Homo sapiens: one gene and its partners. The protein of the gene in region 3 interacts with the protein of the main gene of each other region in a pairwise test. Each region holds a gene or a part of one and is shown on either strand. Other genes may lie near its edges.

Region 1 (7,026 bases), on a different chromosome or scaffold from region 3:
GATTTTATATTTCTAAAGAAATATTTCACCGAAATTAGTAGGCTACAATAGAAATGCTGATTTTTCAATTCTACCATGTACAGCCAGTAAAAACAATAACACACCACTATCTCCTGTCACCATCATTTCATTTAACAAAAGGATATTTCCATTCAAACAATTTGAAAGAACAGAATCTCTCAGAATAAAATATTTTTAAATGGAATCATTTAGCTATATGGAAAAGTTTACTTTCAGACCAGCCTGGCCAACATGCTGAAACCCCGTCTCTACTAAAAATACAAAACAAGCTGGGCGTGGTAGCATGCACCTGTAATCCCAGCTACTCGGGAGGCTGAGGCAGGAGAATCACTTGAACCTGGGATGCAGAGGTTGCAGTAAGCCAAGATCGCGCCATTGCACTCCAGCCTGTGTGACAGAACGAGACTCTGTCTTTAAAAAAAAAAAAAAAAAGTTTACTTTCGTGTCCTTACTTTTTCCCATTTTCCCATAAATCGGTGAAAACTCTGCTGCAAACCTGCACCAGCCTGCCAGCTAACATTCAGTTAGCAGTCCCTGCCCCCTTGGTTTGGTACACTGAGCTCAAATCTAAGGGATCTGGGTGGGCTTCCACCTCTCCCAGTTCTTAGGCTTGTGGCCTTATCTTCATGGTGCCTCAGTTTCTTATGTTAAATAGGGCTTTTAACACCTACTTAGGGCCTGGTGCAGTGGCTCACACCTGTAATCCCAGCAGTTTGGGACGCTGACACCTGGCAGACCTCTTGAGCTCAGGAGTTTCAGACCAGCCTGGGCAACAGGGCAAAACCGTGTCTTTACAAAAAATACAAACGTTAACCGGGCATGGTGGCGCATGCCTGTATTTCCAGCTTCTTGGGAGGCTGAGGTGTGAGGATCACTTGAGCCTGAGAGGCTGAGGTCTGCAGTGAGCCATGATGGTGCCACTGCACTCCAGCCTGGGTGGTAGAGAGAGACCCTGTCTCAAAAAAAGAAAAACAAAAAAACCTACTTTGCCAGATTAGTGTTACGATGAAAAGTGATACATGTATGTTCCTGAAATAAAGCCTGTCCTCAGTTATAGCTGTTACCATTGATTGGAGATGTTCTTTTTTTTCCAGTGTTTGATAATAAATGCCTTTAAGTATAAGTTTCTTGTACATACTTGTTTATATGTTTAAACATTAATTGTTTTAATGTAGTTTATTGCTGACTTTATAGCATAGTATAAAGATGTGTTCATTTAAAACAATTTTGAAGTTGTGCAAGAGAAACTAATGCAGAATATTCTTTTTTTTTTTTTTGATGGAGTCTCGCTGCTCTGTCACCCGGACTGGAGTGCAGTGGCATGATCTCAGCTCACTGCAACCTCCACCTCCCGGGTTCAAGCGATTCTCCTACCTCAGCCTCCCAAGGAGCTGGGATTACAGGTGCCCACCACCATGCCCGGCTAATTTTTGTATTTTTAGTAGAGACAGGGTCTTGCCATGTTGGCCAGGCTGGTCTTAAACTCCTGACCTCAGGTGATCTGCCTGCCTCAGCCTCCGAAAGTGCTGAGATTATAGGCATCAGCCACCGTGTCCAGCTGTAATATGCAGAATATTCTATGTAGGTATTTTCTATATATAAGACCCCCTCTAAGAAGGGTTTCTATGTAAGAATAGTACAAATGATCTGGAAAGGTTAATAGGCTTGACAAATCTATGTTTCTTAAAACTGTAAAAATAGTCTGGTTGTCCTATGGTCTATGTATAGAACATATACCATAGGGGATTGGTTTCAGGACCCCTGTTTTTACTGAGATCCTGGCATACTCAAGTCCCCACTGTGGGCCCTGCAGAACCTGAATGTGAAAATTTGGGCCTCCATATATGCAGGTTTCGGTCTGCATTTGGTTGAAAAAGATCCACGTATAAGTGAGCACACACAGCTTAAACCCGTGTTGTTCAAGGGTCCACTGCATTTGAAAATCAAGTCCATAAAAAAGTTGCCTTATTTTACAAAATGTCGGATTACTACCTCTCCCATATCTTAAAAAAAAAGTACCATCTATTTACTACCCCATTGAGATAATAAAACTTTTAGAATTAGAATAGAACCTAGGGCTGGGCATAGTGGTTCACGCCTGTAATCCCAGCACTTTGGGAGGCTGAGGTGGGTGGATCACCTGAGTTCAGGAGTTTGAGACCAGCCTGGCCAATATGGTGAAACCCCTTGTCTACTAAAAATACAAAAAATTAGCCGGGCATGGTGGTGGGCACCTGTAATTCCAGCTACTCGGGAGGCTGAGGCAGGAGAATCACTTGAACCCGGGAGGTGGAGGTAGCAGTAAGCCGAGATTGTGCCACTGCCCTCCTGCCTGGGCAATAAGAGGGAAACTCTGTCTTACAAAAAAAAAAAAGAACCTAGAAGTATTTACTGCTCTTTGCTTTGTCTGAGACTCAGAGGTTAAGTGACTTGCCCAAGATAGCACAGGTAGTAGCAAATTGAGACTTGACACCTGGCTTCCAGAGTACTTATTTAAAGTCCCCTTTGCACCCCCATTTTAAAAATTAAATTCTTGGCTGGACGCAGTGGCTCACGCCTGTAATCTCAGCACTTTGGGAGGCCGAGGTGGGCGGATCACGAGGTCGGGAGATCAAGACCATCCTGGCTAACATGGTGAAACCCCGTCTCTACTAAAAATACAAAAAAAATTAGCCAGACATGGTGGCACACGCCTGTAGTCCCAGCTACTTGAGAGGGGCTGAGGCAGGAGAATCACTTGAACCCGGGAGGTGGAGGTTGTGGTGAGCTGAGGTCGTGCCACTGCACTCCAGACTGGGTGACAGAGTGAGACTCTGTCTCAAAAAAAAAGAAAAATTAAATTCTTGTCTAGGTAAGGCATTCGCTGCTTCGGATTTGAAAGATAACAAAGCATGTACAGTGAAAAGTCTCCTTCATATCCCTTCCACCAGACAGTTCTCCCGCTCAGTAGACCGCTGTGAAACTTTTCAGAGCCGTTTGACACATAGACAAACATCCACGTGACCATATGATTCCTCCCTTTTTTTAACATGGAAGTATCACGTATGCATCCTTATTGATAGCCTGCTTTTTGCTTGGCATTCGTTCCATTGCTCCCATACTTTAAATGCTTATGTTCATATTTAGTGAAATGTTAATAACTGCTAGTACGTAAAAGAGAATTTGTTCTAGTAGTTTTGACTAACCAAGATAAATTTCAGAAATAAAATTCTTAACATTATCATTGTTTCTTGGTATGGAAATTTCAGAAGCAGGTTGAACTGAAAAGAGTCCAAGAGGAATAGAGAAATATCACAAGGAAGTGAATCTGGACTGTAGTAGAGATAAATGTTAATACTTACAGATAATGCTTACTATGTGCTAGGCAGTGTTCTAAATGTTTTGCATACATTATTGAAGTCTCTCAAGAGTCCCATGAGGCAGGTAGCTTTTATCACCATTTTACACATGAGAAAACTGAGCAACGCAGACTAACACTTGATCCAGGTAGTACAGTGGCAGAGGCCTGATTCTAACCCAGGCAGTCTGGCTCAAGAGTCCAAGCTCTTTACCACTACTCTTTCGTCTTCCTTTCTTCCTTTCCCTCCCACCCTCCTTCTTCCTTTCCTTTCTTTTCTCTCTTTCTTTTCCTTCCTTCTTTTCTTTCTTTTTCCTTCCTTCCTTCCTTTTCTTTATTTTTCCTTCTTCCTTCCTCCTTCGTTCCTTGCTTCCTTCTTTCCTTTTCTTTTTCTTTCCTTTCCTTTTTTTTTCTTTCCTTTCTTTTCTTTCTTCTTTAACTTTTTGAGACATTGTCTCACTCTGTCTCCCCAGGCTGAGTGCAGTGGTGCAGTCATGGCTCACTGCAGCCTCAACCTCCCTGGGTCAAGTGATCCTCCAACCTCAGCTTCCTGAGTAGCTGGGTCTACAGTTGCACACCCCACCATGCCTAGCTAATTTTTTCTATTTTTCATAGTGACGAGGTCTCACTTTGTTGCCTGAGTTGGTCTCAAACTCCTGGCCTCAAGCAGTCTTCCCACTTGGCCTCCCAAAGTGCTGAGATTACAGGTGTGAGCCACCACGCCCAGCCTTTTACCACTACTTTAAATTCCATTTAGATCTAATATTGATAGAGTGATAACCATATCAACCAGATTTTTTAAATATGCAAACAATGGTGCCAGTTTCTGTATCTATGTGACAAAAATATATAGAGTTTGTGGTATCACTTTTACCTGTTTAGAGCACTCTTTGGAAAGGCAGGGAAATTACTGTGAAGGTATTGGTATTCCAGAAGTAAGTTCCTGGAGTGTTTGCCTTCTAAGGTGTGAGGACGTGGTTTGTCACACCCAGTTAACTAACAGATAGACGGTGTAGTGAGCTGTCCGGAAGACTTAGCAGGTTAGCCTAGGGAGGAAGGAGAAAGGGGTTCTGGGCACATGGAGGGAGGGGGAGGGAAAAGAGTTTGTTTGAATCTGTCCTAGATTGGGGTAGCTTTTTCGGAGGGAGGCCTTGTCGTGTGGACCTGCTGCATATAAAGACAGGAGAATTGGACCTGAGGTGTGGTGCTAGCTAAAGCGCCACACAGATCTGGGAATTTAAGAGGAGTTCATTTCCTCAATCATTAGGAAGAACTTGAAAGGGTAGCAAACTGTGGTCATTTGAGAAGAACAGCAAGTGGTCATATTTGAATGTAACATATTCAACTGGGTTGGGAAAGAACCAGAATCTAGATCTTGCCCATAGCAAGTGCAAAACCAGGCGTTCTTATAAACCATGTACTCTTGTAAACACTGATAAGACATAGCACTGAGTCCTGAGCTTTTCTTCTATAAAGTTATTGTACAGGTTGAGGATCCCTAATCCGAAAATCCAAAATCTGAAATGCCCCTGTGAGCATTTCCGTTGAGTGTCATTGGCACTCAAAGTTTTGGATTTTGGACCATTTCAGATTTTGAACTTTCAGATTTGGGATGCTCAACCGGTATATAATGCACATATTCCCAAATCTGAAAAAATCCCAAATCCAAAGCATTTCAGCTCCAAAGTGTTTCAGATAAGGAATATTCAACCTGTACTACATTGTACTAGGCTTGTATTAGATTCCCAGTTTTCAAAATTTGTATCTCAGAATCCCTGTTCTCTGTCAATGAAACAGGGATTTCATACACCTTTGATTCACATTTTAATGTTTTAAGTTTAAAATATTATAAATGTTTATACACAGTCAAATGAATCTCATGCTAAATTTTAATATATTAGAGACAACTGATTTGTCTGCCAGGTTATCTCAAGAGAGTTAATACTGAGTGAAAACAAGTGAGAACCCTAAAAGATTACATACTGTATGATTGCATTTATGTAACATTATTGAAATAACAAACCTGCAGAGATGGAGAACAGATTTAGTGGTTGCTAGGAGTTAGGAATGGGAGGTGAGGGGTGGTGTGGTTATAAAGTGGTAGCATGAGGGAGCTGTGTAGGGATGGAACAGTTCAATGTCTCAGGTGTGATTATACAAAGCTGCAAATGTGATAAAAACTTCATACAACCACACACACACATACTGCATATAAATCCTAGCGTACTCAAGTCCCATTTTGCATACAAAACTGGTGAAACCTGAATAAACTCAGGATTGGAGGAATTTGGGCGAGGGTACTTGGGACCTCCCTGTGTACTTTTTTGTAAATTCCTGTGATTTATAATTATAGTAATTTTAAAATAAAAAGTTGGCCAGGCACAGTGGCTCATGCCTGTAATCCCAGCACTTTGGGAGGCTGAGGCGGATGTATCACGTGAGGTCAGGAGTTCAAGACCAGCTTGGCCAACATGGTGAAACCCCATCTCTACTAAAAATACAAAAATTAGCCGGGCATGGTAGTGGGTGCCTGTAGTCTGAGCTACCTGGGAGGCTGAGGCAGGAGAATCACTTGAACCTGGGAGGCAGAGGTTGCAGTGAGCTGAGATCATGCCACTGCACTCCAGCCTGAGCGACAGAGCAAACTCTGTCTCAAGAAAATAAAATAAAATAGACTGGGTGTAGTGGCTCACGCCTGTAACCCCAGCACTTTGGGAGACTGAGGCGGGTGGATCACCTGAGGTCGGGAGTTGGAGACCAGCCTGACCAACATGGTGAAACCCCATCTCTACTAAAAATACAAAATTAGTCGGGCATGGTGGTGCATGCCTGTAATCTCAGCTACTCGGGAGGCTGAGACAGGAGAGTTGCTTGAACCCAGGAGGCAGAGGTTGCAGTGAGCCAAGATCACGCCATTGCACTCCAGCCTGGGCAACAAGAGTGAAACTCCGTCTGAAAAATAAAATAAAATAAAATAAAAAGTAAAAAAGCAAAAAAAAAAAAAAAGTGCATTTAGAATATTTGAGAGAAAATAAGCAAAAGGAAGAAAATGTAAATTATCTATAATGCTTACACCCAGGACAATAATCCTTGGAATAGAGTGTCTCACTTTGTGTATAGAAATGAAACTTTTAAAATGCCATTTTATTTTTTAATTAAAATTTTTTCTTTCCTTTTTTTTCCTCCTCAGAGTTAGAAAGGATAAAAATGTTATTGATTAGTAAGACTGTAGCTTTATGTTGATATTTTGAAATTTTAGGCTAGTGCTTGTTTGTTCATGTAACATATAAGCACATTCAGTACTATTAGAACTGTTGCATTATGCAATAACATGACTGCCTAATGCATATATCAGGATTAGTACATATTGTAAAGTTTTTATTTTTTACCAAAATGTTTACGACTACCAAGTATTCATTCCTTAACACTATTACATAATTAATTTAGAAATGTTTTACTTTTAAAACTTCTGGACAGGTGTAATTAAATCCTTAGATAGCGTTAATGTACTATTTAAAAAACACACACAAAACATTATCATTGGCAAAACATGCTTTATCATCTATTCATCTTTGTGAATCCGGTTTTTCTTGATACCATGCCATCAAAACAAAACAAATTTGACATAAGACTGCCCAATCATCCATAATTTAAAGTTGGTGTTCGTC
Region 2 (7,295 bases), on a different chromosome or scaffold from region 3:
TCTAGGTTTACAGGTTAGATGTTTCCACTGAAATCCTTTATACTTTTGACTATAGGGGAAATTCTATCAGACCTGAACTCACTATTTAGGCTTTGTTGTTGGCTATCTTTAATGGGAAAGGAGACAGCATTCAGATCTCCTTAGAGTTATGTCAGAACAGCAGGTTAGTAGGAACTGCCCACAGGGTGGGACAGAAGTTGTAAGAGCTACCTCCTGGGAAACAAAAATCATGCAACACTCTTTGCCCTCCTAGGATGTCACTTTGCATTTAGTTCAGGACAGCACTGCTCTCATCCTTCCCGCCTTCTAGATAATAAACCAGCAGGGCATGAGGGTGCTTGGTTTTTCTTTTAGGATCTAGCAATGCAGTTCATCAGTGCCTGGTCGCATTTCACCTAAAGAACCTATTCCCCAACTCCCTGCATGTTCAGGACTCCAGGAGGATGGATAACCCTGGGAGGTCTGGACACCCACCAAGCCTGGCCTGACCATAGAGCACTCTGCCCTCCCTGCCTCTCTAGCTCTGCTTGAACACTGCAGATCCCTGGCTCACTGGCCCCACAGCTCTTTAAATTTTCTGGTAATGCTTTAAATTTTCTGGGCTGCTCCCCAGCCCATGCAGGAGCAAAAGTTCCACCCGACCTATAGCTTCCAAGTCCACCATTCTGAAGTCCTCAACAGCCTGCAGTTTATTAGAAGTTGCTACAGAGACAGGAAAGTGTTACCGGTGGAGGGTGTCCTGCTCACTGAAACATTCTGTTTGCAGGAGAAAAACAAAAACTTGGTCTGTTCTAGGATCTATGTGTTTCCTTAAAGTCTTAGAATGAGCAACTCCATTTTGGTTTGGTTTGGTCTGTTGGGGCCATGAGCTCAGTCCAAAACACTGGCCTTTCACAATTTTGTTTTTTAAAATTCCCCCTTTTTGTTCAGGTTCTCACTTAGGTGAGAATGTAACCAAAACGTAAGGCCTTAGCGCCGCTCTCAGTTACCATCATTTTGGGTTTCCAGTCTCAGCACACCATCCATAGGTTACAGTGTCCTCATGGTCGCATATTTGTTTCACTTCTCATCATTCCAGTTGAAGAGAGACCATTTGACATTCTAGAGATGGCTGCATGCAAACATCGAAAACCTTTGAGAGAATACAGTGCACCAGGGAGCCTATTATTATGATGACTATTGGGAGGATAATACCAAGAGTTTGGAGGATGCTCCTTGCCCAGGGTTCCCATAAACCAAACCAGTTAAAATTAAATAGATCAAATAATGAACTAAATAAAGAATCTACCAACTTAAGTAAACAATCTCCTCATTAATCCCCTACAACTGAATCTCTTAATCTTCATTTAATGTATTTCTCCATAGACTCTAAGTGCCAGCAGCTGCACAGATACTTCTCTGTTCAGCCAATTCTATCATAACTTTCACAAAAGAATTTAAAGTCTGTTGTGTAACTATGGCCTTTACAGTAGATGTTCTGAGAACATCTATCCTATGGGTTCTAGGTTGTGAAGGGGTTGATTGTTCTCAGTGAACCATAAAAAGCTTTCTTTACCTGGTGAAAATACACTGTAGCATAATCATGGGAAAAGCTTTTATACAACAAGAAAACATGCATTGAAAGTGACATTGAATAAAATCCCTTTGTAAATGTTTAAATGGCCCATCGGGTAGCCAAATGTACCTGAAGCTTTGATTGTCTTCCCAGGAATATGGATTTGAGAAACCAAACATTGGTTATAAACAACTTTAGCAATTTATAAGTCAGCGGTTTCCATGGCAGTTTGATTTTTAAAGGTCAAACTTCCTCGCACTTCAAAGAACGCTGAGGCCAAACAGCACCAAAGGAGAACATCACACTTTAACCCGACACAACCCTGCTTAGAACAGCAGCACAAGAGCCTGCATACATGCAACTCCATCCCACTTTACCATTCAACAGCAAACTCCAGATTCCAAACAATATTGAGGCCAAACACTACTGCAACCGGAAGAGAAAATTCTAAGGAGGGCTTAGTACTAGGCCTAAGAACCTCTACCAAAGGAACCCCCTTGGAGAGGCTGAGGTCCAAAGGATCCTCCAGAGCATCCCCCTTTAGGGTCCAATCTTAGAGCGTCAGACGTCTCTGACCTTAGGTGGTCACCAGTGCCACTTTACATGTTTTCCCTCCAGAGGGGATGGCCTACTGTGAGCTTTCCTTTTGTCTCTGGATGAAGGCCTTGACTTCTAGCATCCTTATAATTTGATAAGGCCATGCTTTCCCATGGTTCCCATTCCACTAGAGTGATAGTCATGAACTTTAATGATATGAAATGGAGGCTAGGTGGGTTTCTTTTAACCTTAGCCAGTAGAGTAGGGGAAGGGAAGAATTTAACATAAGGAAAGAAGGTTTAAGTCACCTGAAACACGTGTGAGTTCGCCCTGGAGAAGCTGCGTCACACATAGGGATCAGGGACCACAACCAGAAAAGACAGAAAAGAGCCCTTCCCGCTTCTGGGCAGGGCAACTATCCCCATTCACTCCTTGGCCTTCAAGGCAGCACTGGAGAGTAGCCCCCGGCCAGAAACCTGCAGTCGCCTCCGTGTCTAGGCGCTACCCACCAAGGATCCCACGTTGGAAAGGAAAAGAGAAAGAGAGAGATTTACCTGTATGGAGCAGAAAGGAAAAGGGAAAGGAGAAAAATAAATCCCAGACTTTGGGCTTACCTCCTGGTTGGCTTGCCAAAATATGTTACCAGTGAAGAGTGTCCAGGTTCTTGGCGTGTTGAACAAAGAACTGGACAAACACACAAACAAAGCAAGGAAAGAATGAAGCAACAAAAGCAGAGATTTATTGAAAACGAAAGTGCACTCCACAGGGTGGGAGCAGGCCCGAGGATAGCGGCTCAAGAGCCCGGTTTCAGAATTTTCTGGGGTTTAAGTACCCTCTAAAGTTTTCCCACTGGTTACTTGGTGTGCACACAATGTAAATGAAATAGGAGCCCGAGATCAGTCTGAATGGTTGCAGAAAGCGATCAATGGGAGGCTGAAGTGAAGTTACAAAGTTATGCCCTATGAAAACATCTGATTGGACGCAGAAAGCGAAGTTACAAAGTTACATTCCTATGCACATGAAGACTTGGCCCTGGAGACCAGTCTGATTGGTTGCGGGAGGGGACCAATCAGAGGTATTTTCAGTTTTTCATCTGCCATGTAGAAAAGGAGGGGCTACAAAGGAAGTTTGTGGAAAGTTGGGATTTTCCTCCAGACCCTTATTCTCCTGCTTCAGAAGGGAGAGAAAGCAGACCGGGATGGGGGTGCGGGGATCTTCCCGGGAGTGGTGGGGTTGTGTTACCAGTGCCCCACCTCCTCCCGAGCCAGCAGACTCCCCAGAAATGAAAAACTAAGGCTGGAAGGTTTAGCGATGGAGCAGGACCAACTTACCAGCTCGCGGTGCTCCCTAGAAGCTGGATTCTTCGCAGGTGCGAGCACACCCCAGATGCCAGCGTGGACCCTTGAGCAACTGGAAGTTAAAAACCCACGAAAACAGCTCTGAGTGATCTCTAGGGAGCTCTCGTTTCTTTTTCACCCATGTGTATTTTTTAAGACAAAAAGAAAAAAGGTAATTTAAAGAAAACAAAGAACAAAGGAACTTGGCGAGGCCCAGGCTACAGTCCGCGGGCTCACTCTCCACAGAGTAAAAAGAACGCGAATCCTTTTCTGTTTTCCGGCCCTCCCCATCCTGGGCTGCGGCTCCACACTTCCCCAGCGTGGCCTGCATTTCTATTGGGCAGCTGGCGCTCCGGAAGTGTCCGCACTCTTTATTATCGACTCTGCGCCTTTGGGCAATTGTCACTATTTTGGTTCATCAAAATTGAAGAAATACCAGGCATTCTTACCATGCCCCTAAAGGGGTGACTCAACCTTTCCAGCTGTACTCGCATTCCCAGAGCAGCACTGCTGCCCCCTTGCTTAAAAGCACGGTTGCCCCCAGGAACCAGGCCAGGGCAGCTGTGGATGGACAGGAGAGGACAAAGGTGCAAGGAGCGGATTGCTCCAGGACAGACAGATTCAAATACCTACCCCTGGCAGTGTAGGGAGCATCTTGGGGCCATTTGGGAGATTCCTTTATTGGGATGCTCCAAAGGCTAGTCTGGCCGGATACAGTCCTCCTGCCACTTTGCTTTCCTTTAGCCCCCTTATTATGATAATTATGGTAATACATGTTTTTCCTGCTAACTTGTCTAAGAATTGGTGTCTCAGTACATAGCTTTTGAAATGCACACAGGCCACGATGACTCATCACAGGGGAATGTGCAAGTCTGAGTTGCTCCTTCTCCGCAAGCTCCACCTACCCCACTCTGGACTGCATTAACTGCCTACTGCCTATTCTAAAATCTTAAGGTACCTAGGAAGAGTACCTATTCACATTAAATAACGTATATATTGAAAGCACATAGCTGCGCTTTTCTTCTTCTCATCTGATCCAGACGCCAGCTCTATGGATACAGTCTCACCGAAGTTAAAAAACTATTCTTCAGTCATTGGCTTAGAAAATGCTAGTGCCGGCTGGGAGCAGTGGCTCATGCCCATAATTCCAGGACTTTGGGAGGCCGAGGTGGGTGGATCACCTGAAGTCAAGAGTTCGAGACCAGCCCAGCCAACGTAGTGAAACCCCCGTCTCCACTAAAAATACAAAAAAAATTAGCCGGGCGTGGTGGCAGACCCCTGTAATCCCAGCTACTAGGGAGGCAGAGGCAGGAGAATCAGTTGAACCTGGGAAGCGGAGGTTGCAGTGTGCTGAGATCATGCCACTGCACTGCAGCCTGGGCAACAAGAGCAAAACTCTGTCTCGGGGAAAAAAAAGGAAAGAAGAAAGAAAGAAAGAAAGAGAGAGAGAGAGAAAGGAAGGAAGGAAGGAAGGAAGGAAGGAAGGAAGGAAGGAAGGGAAAGAAAGAAAGAAAGAAAGAAAGAAAGAGGAAGGAAGGAAGGAAAGGAAGGAAGGAAGGAAGGAAGGAAGGAAGGGAGAGAAGAGAGAAAGGAAGGGAGGGAGGGAGGGAAAGAAAAAAAGAAAGAAGAGAGAGAGAGAGAAAGAAAAAGAAAGAAAGAAAGAGAAAGAAACAAAGAAAAAAAGCTAGCGCAGGCCGGGTGCGGTGGCTCACGTCTATAATCCCAGCACTTTGGGAGGCCGAAGTGGGTGGATTGCCTGAGCTCAGGAGTTGGAGACCAGCCAGGGCAATATGGTGAGAGGGCATAGTCGTGCGCGCCTTGGTAGTCCCAACTACTGTGGTGGACTGGGGAGGGTGTGGGGGCGCTGAGGCATGAGAATCGCTTGGATGGAGGCAGAGGTTGCAGTGAGCCAAGATCACACGGCTGCACTCCATCCTGAAAGACAGAGCAAGGGATTCTATCTCAAAAAAAGAAAAAGAAAAAAAAGAAAAGAAAAGAAAAAGAAAATGCTAGTGCAGGGATTTTCCCAGAGCACCAGGATGGCTTCCAAGGCAGAAACAAAAGACATTAAGAAGTTGTTCCCATGGGAATGTGTGTGGCAGGCATGACATATCAGATCAACTTGGAATAGAAAATGCATATCCCAAAAGGCCCCTCAAAAGTGAGCAGAGTAAAAACATTCACAGAACTTTTAAATTATGTTTTTATTAACTATTGAGTAGAAACAATATTTATAGAATACATATAAGGTATAAAGAACAAAAGTATGAACATCTGTGAACCCCTTACACGGCTAAAGAATATTAACAATAAGCCTCTCCTCAGAGGTAAAACACCATATCAAAGTTTACATTGAACCTTGTGTTGCTATTCTTTATAGTGTTTTGCGGGGAGGGGGTTGGGGGGTTGTTCTGGTTGTTTTTAGCCCACTGCAGCCTTCACCTCCTGGGCTCCAGTGATCCTCTCACCTCAGCCTCCCAGTAGCTGGGACTACAGGCACACACCACCAAACCCAGCTAATTTTTAAATTTTATTTCATTTTATTTTATTTTTTGTAGAGCCAGGATCTTGCTATGTTGCCAAGGCTTGTCTCTAACCCCTGGGCTCAAGTGATTCTCCTGCCTTGGCCTCTGGAAGTGCTGAGATTACAGGTGTGAGCCACCATGCTGGCTTGCTGTTTGTTCATGCTGTAAATTCCCTTTGTTGATTTCCAAAAGTGTTTTTATACTTCTAAGTTGCTGAGAGTCCTTATTATGAATGGATGTTGAACTTTATCAAAAGCTTTTTCCTCTATTCAGATGATCATGTGATTTTTCTCTTTTGAACTCTTAATCTGTGGTGAATTACACTGATTAATTTTTTTTTCTTGGAGACAGGGTCTCAAACTGGCACCCAGGCTAGAGTGCGGTGATGCAGTCACAGCTCAGTGCAGACTCAAACTTCTGGCCTGAAGGATCTTTCCTCCTTCAGCCTCCAGAAAGTCTGGGATTACAGGAGTGAGCCACCTCACTGGGCCTGATGATTGATTTTTTAACGCCAAAATCAACGTTGAATTCCTGACTTGAACCACCTTGGTCGTGGTGTATTATCACTTTTACAAATTGTTGGATTTTGTTTGCTAAAATTTTGTTTAGAATTTTTCATGTAGATATTTGAGTGATAATTGAGTGACCTGCAATTTTCCTTTCATACTTTACCTATCAGACTTGTTATCAAGATTATGCCAGCCTCATGAAATTAGTTAGGAACTGTTTCCTCTTTCTAGGAAAGCATTTGAATAAGACTGAAATTCTCTAGGACTGAAATTCTCTCCTCCTTAAACTTGCTTGTTAGAACCTGCTGTGACAATGGTTACAGAATTTCTGCTTTGATCCACGAGTTAAACACTTTTTTAATTCCAAAAGATATGAACATTTTTCTAGTTACCGTTTTATTACTAGTTTATAATGTATTTGCATGTGGGGTCAAAGAATGTGATCAGTATCAGTTCTCTGAACTCTTTGAATAATTACTTTTTAATTAGAAAAAAATCTCAAATATTATGCGTTCAGAAGCAAAAACACCCCCCCTCCACACACACACACACACACACTTTATTAATTACAAAAAGCAAATTGTAACTGCACAGTAGGGAAACCTGGCAGACGCCACTTTATCCAAATGATCAGAGTTAACATCATCAGGAATGGAACTAATCACTATCAAGTGCCTTCTAATACCGTGAACTGAGAACCGTAACAGCCCTTCTATGGAATTCATGCCAAAAATGCATAACCTGAATCTAATCATGAGAACACATGAAATGACCCAAAATCAGATACTCTGCAAAATAATAGGCCAGTCCTCTTCAATAGTGTCAAAGATAT
Region 3 (7,026 bases):
TTTGAAAGCCACCATCATTATGAGATAAATTATATAATAGTACTTTACATAGGCTCCAAAATACAGCACAGACACAGCTATCATTGTCATGGTCATCATTATCATCATGATCACCAACTTATGAGGATAAGCAAGAACACCTACTAGAAGTTTCTTTCCATTCAGCAACAAAATTGGTGTCTTTCTAGTCACTCCCTTCCCTGACTGTCACATAGCAGTTCACAGAGGCTCAGTTGCAGAATGAGAAGCTCTGGGCCAGGACCTGCCATTGTATGCATCCTTGCATGGGAACTGGGGGCTGGAAGAGGAGTGACTGCTTGATAATTATGAGTCAGTCAAAACCACCAACTGTCTGAAAAAAATAGGCCTTTTTGTAACTAGTATTGTCACTAAACCAACTCCTCCATGTTTTGTGCATACATGAAATCTAGGCAATACACTTGTATTCCCAAAAGCTTCCACTTGAAGAGATCTGTGCTCTTTCCAAATATAAACCTTACCCGAGAGGTGGTCATCTTGGCCACACCTCAGAGAGGGAGAGAGGCAGTCTTGTTGGGTTGGGTGGTCATAATGGGGCTCAGGGCCAAATCCCCAGGGGGTAGGATAGTGCAGAGAAGATGGCACTCTCCAGTGCTTAATAAAATGCACGTGGTCTAAGCTGCCCACTCCCTCAAAGGCAATAAAAAATAGGTACTATTTAAATTGAAGAGTAACTACTGCCCCAGGGAATGGACAGGTTGTCATTGGAATAGCCATGGTTAATGGTCCCAGTTGACAACTGAAATGAATGTGCTACCTGAACAGGAAAGCTTATTAACCAGATTTCAAAGACAGTCTTTCCCGGTAAATCCAAATTTACAAATTAAAGCCAGTAAAGACACCGAATTCTCTAATAATATGTGGGGTGCAGTATATTTTAGAGCTGGGAATAATTCCAAACAGCAAATAGTTCAAAATTTATTTTCAATTTAGCATATGCATGCATTTGCTTAAACTGTCTTAAAAATGAGTAAAAAATACTGTCAGTTTGTTTCAATCATACTGAGATGAGGAACAATGTTTAGCATTGCATGCTAGAAAAGGACACAGGATTGGGAGTCAGGGCTGGGTGACCGTCACAGGACTTTCACTAACTGTGTGGATCTTGGGCAAGTCTGTGTGCCCTGAGACTCAGTTATTTAACTTTCTTTTAAAAAACATAGTCCAGATGCAGATAACAAAGCCTGCCTCTAATTTCCCTTACAGAATTGTGAGAAGCTGGTGGAGATGTTTGTTACAAAAGTGTTTTGAAAATAGAGCAAATATTATTCTTTTTAAGGCATGATGTTTTCATAGCATGTCAGGCAACAGGAAAAAACTAAGTTAGGATTTTATTTTATTGTGGGGAATTTATGTGCAAATTATTGTGCAATTTAATGAAAATAAGCCAATGTTTTATACAGAAGTACCCAGAAAATTAAATAACACTATACATTGTTCAAATAGTTGCCTTAATATATTTTATTTTCTCAGCATAATTAGAGTTGTATTATACAGGTCTTTGAGTAGTCAGTCAGTGGGAGAAGTTAAGACAACAGATATCTTTTTATTAAAATTATTATATGAATTATCGCAAATTAATTTTTATGGTTCTGTCACAGGATGTCTGACTCAACTCTATGAAAACGCCTTCTTCAGAGGTGGGGATGTAGCTTCCATGTACACCCCAAATGCCCAATACTGCCAGATGAGGTGCACATTCCACCCAAGGTGTTTGCTATTCAGTTTTCTTCCAGCAAGTTCAATCAATGACATGGAGAAAAGGTAAAAGTTGGTATTTCATTATTGGAGAAGCTGTTTTTCAAAACTGAATCAGTTTTGTGCAGAAAGGTGTAGTATAACTGAGAGTTCTTCCTCACACGGGGTTCAAGGACCAGCTTCAGCAAAATCCCGTCAAGTGGTTCTTACAAATGCAGATTCCTAGGCCACAACCCAGATCTGCTGAACCAAAGTTTCTTGTGACCAGGAATCTGCATTTTAAACAATCACTGTGTTTCTTTAAAGTAGTAGAAGCTAGTCATTTTCTATTCAAAGCCTCAAAATGCTTGAATATCATTGGGCTAAGGGATTGTCTCAAGAAAGAGTCTAACAGGTGCACATTTCATCTGAATAAAGAAACAGATTTAACTGTGTGACCCATGATCACATTAGCGGATAGCACAGTCCAAAGAAAATAACATAAGACAAGCATTTTGCTGAGAATGTAATTGAGAAAGATCTAGAACTTGTGATTTTGGGACAGGGCAGTTCTAAATGGGGCCTATAGTGAGCCAGTTTGGGCACCTGTGGCATGATGCTATGTATGGTGTGTGTGTGTATGTGTGCTTGTGCTTGTGTGAATATGTATTATTAACTGGAAATTTGTAAAAGTATTGGAAAAATAGTACTTACGATTTTGTGTGTGTGTGTGATGGAGTCTCGCTTTGTAGCCCAGGCTGGAGTGCAGTGGCGTGATCTCGGCTCACTGCAACTTCCACCTCCCAGGTTCAAGCGATTCTCCTGCCTCAGCCTCCCAAGTAGCTGGGATTACAGGCACGCACCACCACGTCCAGCTAATTTTTGTAGTTTTAGTAGAGACGGGGTTTCACCACATTGGCCAGGCTGGCCTTGAACTCCTGACCTCGTGATCCACCTGCCTCTACCTCCTAATGTGCTGGGATTACAGGCATGAGCCACCGCACCCAGCGGTAATTACAATTTTTATTAGGTCAGAGAGATGCTTATTAATCACGAGCCACAGTTTCATCTTAATGATTTTTCCTTTTGATTAATATCCAGAGTAAGCTTTTCTTTGTTGTTCCCATTTCCATGTTCATAACTCTTTACTCATCTTCACTCTATGTGAGTTTACCAACTAGAAATTGGATAGTCATTCTCTGATCCCACATGTTAAACTTGTAGAGAAAACTCAGATTGTATGTGAGGATCATCATATTAAAAGTGGAGGAAGGTTCTAGAATTCTTATAAATAATGAAATTAACATGAAGGTGGACATCTAAGACAGAGGGAAGTCTTCCATTAAGTGCAGACTACAAGGAGTTAATAAGCAAGATGAACACGATATACAAATCCAGCTCTTATCACTAAGTTAACTTTTTAAGTAAATGAAAGTATTTGCAAAAATAATTACCAATTGAGAACATAGTTGCCTGAAAGTTTAAGAACACAGGAAAAATCATTAACTCTTTAATATGGTTGATTTCCTGTACTTAAAAAATGTGAGTGTAAAGAAAACGCAGTGATGGAGTTAGATATTATGGGGTGTTATAAAATTAGCTCTAAGAGTGTTCTTTCCAGCAAGTATTGGGGAAGCTATATTATTTTCCTTATTCCTGGTTTTATTTGTTAGTGTGTAGAAAATGCTAGACATTTCCTCAATGTATGTTTATTATTCTACTTCCTAAGTAAAGCTACTTTTAAAATAGGTTTGGTTGCTTCTTGAAAGATAGTGTTACAGGAACCCTGCCAAAAGTACATCGAACAGGTGCAGTTTCTGGACATTCCTTGAAGCAATGTGGTCATCAAATAAGTGGTAAGTTGTGAATTTCTTAGCTACATTTGAGTTAATATTGGATCTCGCTTAGAACAGCTTTTGCTCAAAGTTTGTACTGCTACAGCTTTTTGGAAGGCATCACTCATAAAGATAGGAGATGGGGCAGTATTCTGGACACAAAAGAGGGACCCATATTCATCTGGACACTTCTATTGTCTTTATAAATCAACACATACTTAATGAGCCTCTATTATTTATGAGGTTAGCGCTCAAGTGTAAGATTTGCAGAAAATGAATCCAAATAATTGTGTCTCGTTTCCAGATAAGAATTTTTAAGAAAACACAAGGGAACATCTCTCTCAAGTTCACTTGAGGGTAATTTTTACATCAGTGATTCTCAACCAGCAGTGATTTTGTCTCTTCCACTGGGGACATTTGACAATGTCTGGAGACATTTTTGGTGGCTACAACTAGGGAGGATGCTATTAGCATTTACTAAGTAGAGGCCAGAATGTTTGAATGCTGACCAACATTCTACAAGGCACAGGGCAGTCGTCCACAGCAAATAATTTTCTGGCCCAAAACGTCAACAGTGCTGACATCAAGAAACTCTGTGATATACCACTAGGCCCAAATTGAAGAACTGAGTTCTGCAAATCTTGCTAAGAATAATACTTCCTAAAGGAAACTTGAGGACTAGGATGCTAGAGAACTTTGATTCTGACATCTGAAGCTACTGATGTCTTGGGAAACAGTTTCCAATGCTATCCTAATAAATTTAAGACAAATGAACTATTTCTCAAACATGACTGGGACTGATAAGAAAGTGAAAAGTGCTGAAAAGATTCAACTGATGGGTTGTCAGAATCTTAAAATAACTGCTGTTATTCTATGTATGACTATATATCATTACTATTTTATTTTCATTATGCACAATTAATTTTGTAGGTTCAAATTTCAGATGTTTTTAAATTTGTCATCCTTTCCTCCCTCATTGATATCACCTCTTCAATACGTACACACTTTGAGCCTGCTGTTTGCATTTTAACCAGTTATCAAAGGATGGCAATGCCTTCATTATAAATGTGGGCCTGACTTAGCCAGTATAATAGGTGTAGTCTACGTGAGGTGGAGTACATTTCCTATTTTAAAAGATCAATTTTTATGTTAATCCAATTTGGTATAAATTATTCGAGTAAGTGCTATTTCTGATTGTTGTATCTTGTAGCAAAATTTAAAGAAAAAGTAATTTGTGCCTTTCTCAATATTCCTGTTATTGTTCATGTATTCTAAAACTCACTGTTACTCACTTAGCTTGCTTTTAATGTTTTTTAAAGTGAAAAATTGTTCCCAAGTACATAAAATCTCTACACTCAAGAACAATTCTAGTCAAAAGCATTTAGAGCTTCCGTATGAACACTTAAAGAGTTTTTATTTGTAAGAGTCGCATCCCAACTCTTAGCCTGTTCTTTTCTCACATGCAGAAAAATAGGAAAGAGACTTCGTTTCCACAGTCTGCAAATTCCTGTGTTTAAGAACCACAGTGAATAATCCACCTCCCTGCCCAACTCATCGTACTGTCATATAGTTTTCCTGACAGTTTGTGTATTTTCTGTCTTTCCCACCCTTAAATTTAGTTTTATGACTTCAACCATACTTCTTAGGAGTGGAAAGGTATCTGTAGTAGATTATGGTTTATTCCACATAATCTTGGGGAATAAAACTTTAAAAAAGTATACAGTTTATACTTCTGGTTACATTACTTCCTTAACCAAAAGTCTAACCAAGAAATTTGAATCTTTAAAAAAAAAAGAGGCCGGGCGCGGTGGCTCACGCCTGTAATCCCAGCACTTTGGGAGGCCGAGACGGGCGGATCACGAGGTCAGGAGATCGAGACCATCCTGGCTGACACGGTGAAACCCCGTCTCTACTAAAAATACAAAAATTAGCCGGGCGTGGTGGCGCGCGCCTGTAGTCCCAGCTACTCGGGAGGCTGAGGCAGGAGAATGGCGTGAACCCGGGAGGCGGAGCTTGCAGTGAGTCGAGATCGCGCCACTGCGCTCCAGCCTGGGCGACAGAGCGAGACTCCGTCTCAAAAAAAAAAAAAAAAAAAAGAGCCTAATTTTGCTTCACTGTCTGTGAAAAGAATTATCTGTATCTTTTGCATGTAAGACAAATCTCAATGAAAAGGGTGCTTAAATAGAAGTTAACACTATTTTAAAGCAAGAATGGAAGTGGTTTCATCATGCGTAAACAACAACTCTCCACATTTTGTAATGATTGATCTGGATGCAATTTGTCATCAGACAGGAGAAGTCGAAAGCAAAGAAATAACACTGGGAGATAGAGAAGCTCTTTCATTCAATGCGAAAGGTCAAAGGCACATCAGTTTCTTTAATAATGCAAACCTCAGCACACATTATCAGTGTCCTCATTATTATTGCCTTGTTTATTTCCCACTGCTCATTGATAATTTCAACGTGAAATTTACCTGTATTGCTGCATGCATCTTGCAGTTTAAGAAGTGAAGTAACCCAATTTCAAAGCTAGTGCTTTAGGGAAAATATTGGATTGTATTTACTTCAAGCAGAGTTCGATAATTTATGTACATAATAAAAATTTTAAATCCCTTAGTTAATATAGCAGTTGCCAAAACTGGGCTATTATCATTCTAAACTACCAACCCAAATGGTAGTGGGTATCTAATCTACCTCTAGAAAGAAAATGGACTGTATTTGCTCTATGTATTTTTCTTGTACAGCTTGCCATCGAGACATTTATAAAGGAGTTGATATGAGAGGAGTCAATTTTAATGTGTCTAAGGTTAGCAGTGTTGAAGAATGCCAAAAAAGGTGCACCAGTAACATTCGCTGCCAGTTTTTTTCATATGCCACGCAAACATTTCACAAGGCAGAGTACCGGTGAGTACAATTCAAGGTGTGTGTTCTTTGTATTGGTGCCTCCAGGATTTCACTGTATTCTTCTTAACCTCTTTTGTTCCCAAACTAAAAACCAAACAGGGCTTTTATTCTAACCACTTTCCTCATTTACTTACTCTATTTTATTTTTTTATCTTTTATTTATTTATTTATTTATTGAGATGGAGTCGCGCTCTGTCGCCCAGGCTAGAGTGCAGTGGCGTAATCTCGACTCACTACAACCTCCGCTTCCCGGGTTCAAGCGATTCTCCTGCCTCAGCCTCCCGAGTAGCTGGGATTACAGGCGTCCGCCACCATGCCTGGCTAATTTTTGTATTTTTAGTAGAGTCGGGGTTTTACTATGTTGGTCAGGCTGGTCTCGAACTCCTGATCTTGTGATCCACCCACCTCAGCCTCCCAAAGCGCTGGGATTACAGGCATGAGCCACTGCGCCTCGCCCTTCATTTTTTAATTAAATAATTCATTTAATTTCATTTGTTTCTCTACTCTTTTCCCCTGGCATGTAATTGTACCGCATCTTCAAAGCCTGACATCCTCTTCCCCTACTTCTCCAA

The links.
Region 1: the proteins of KLKB1 (region 3) and VKORC1L1 interact in binary tests that used the Homo sapiens proteins (3 or more experiments, as listed by UniProt).
Region 2: the proteins of KLKB1 (region 3) and SLFN12 interact in binary tests that used the Homo sapiens proteins (3 or more experiments, as listed by UniProt).

What each region holds. Positions count from the first base shown.
Region 1 is NC_000007.14:65,876,067-65,883,092, forward strand, and holds part of VKORC1L1 (vitamin K epoxide reductase complex subunit 1-like protein 1), read left to right. Parts: intron 1-7,026. UniProt on the Homo sapiens protein: Involved in vitamin K metabolism. Can reduce inactive vitamin K 2,3-epoxide to active vitamin K, and may contribute to vitamin K-mediated protection against oxidative stress.
Region 2 is NC_000017.11:35,429,482-35,436,776, forward strand, and holds the start of SLFN12 (ribonuclease SLFN12), read right to left. Parts: upstream 3,020-7,295; 5' UTR 2,707-3,019; intron 1,133-2,706; exon of another isoform or gene 990-1,132; intron 1-989. UniProt on the Homo sapiens protein: Ribonuclease which is part of an E2/17beta-estradiol-induced pro-apoptotic signaling pathway.
Region 3 is NC_000004.12:186,230,487-186,237,512, forward strand, and holds part of KLKB1 (plasma kallikrein isoform 1 preproprotein), read left to right. Parts: intron 1-1,640; coding exon 1,641-1,803; intron 1,804-3,465; coding exon 3,466-3,572; intron 3,573-6,294; coding exon 6,295-6,454; intron 6,455-7,026. UniProt on the Homo sapiens protein: Participates in the surface-dependent activation of blood coagulation. Activates, in a reciprocal reaction, coagulation factor XII/F12 after binding to negatively charged surfaces.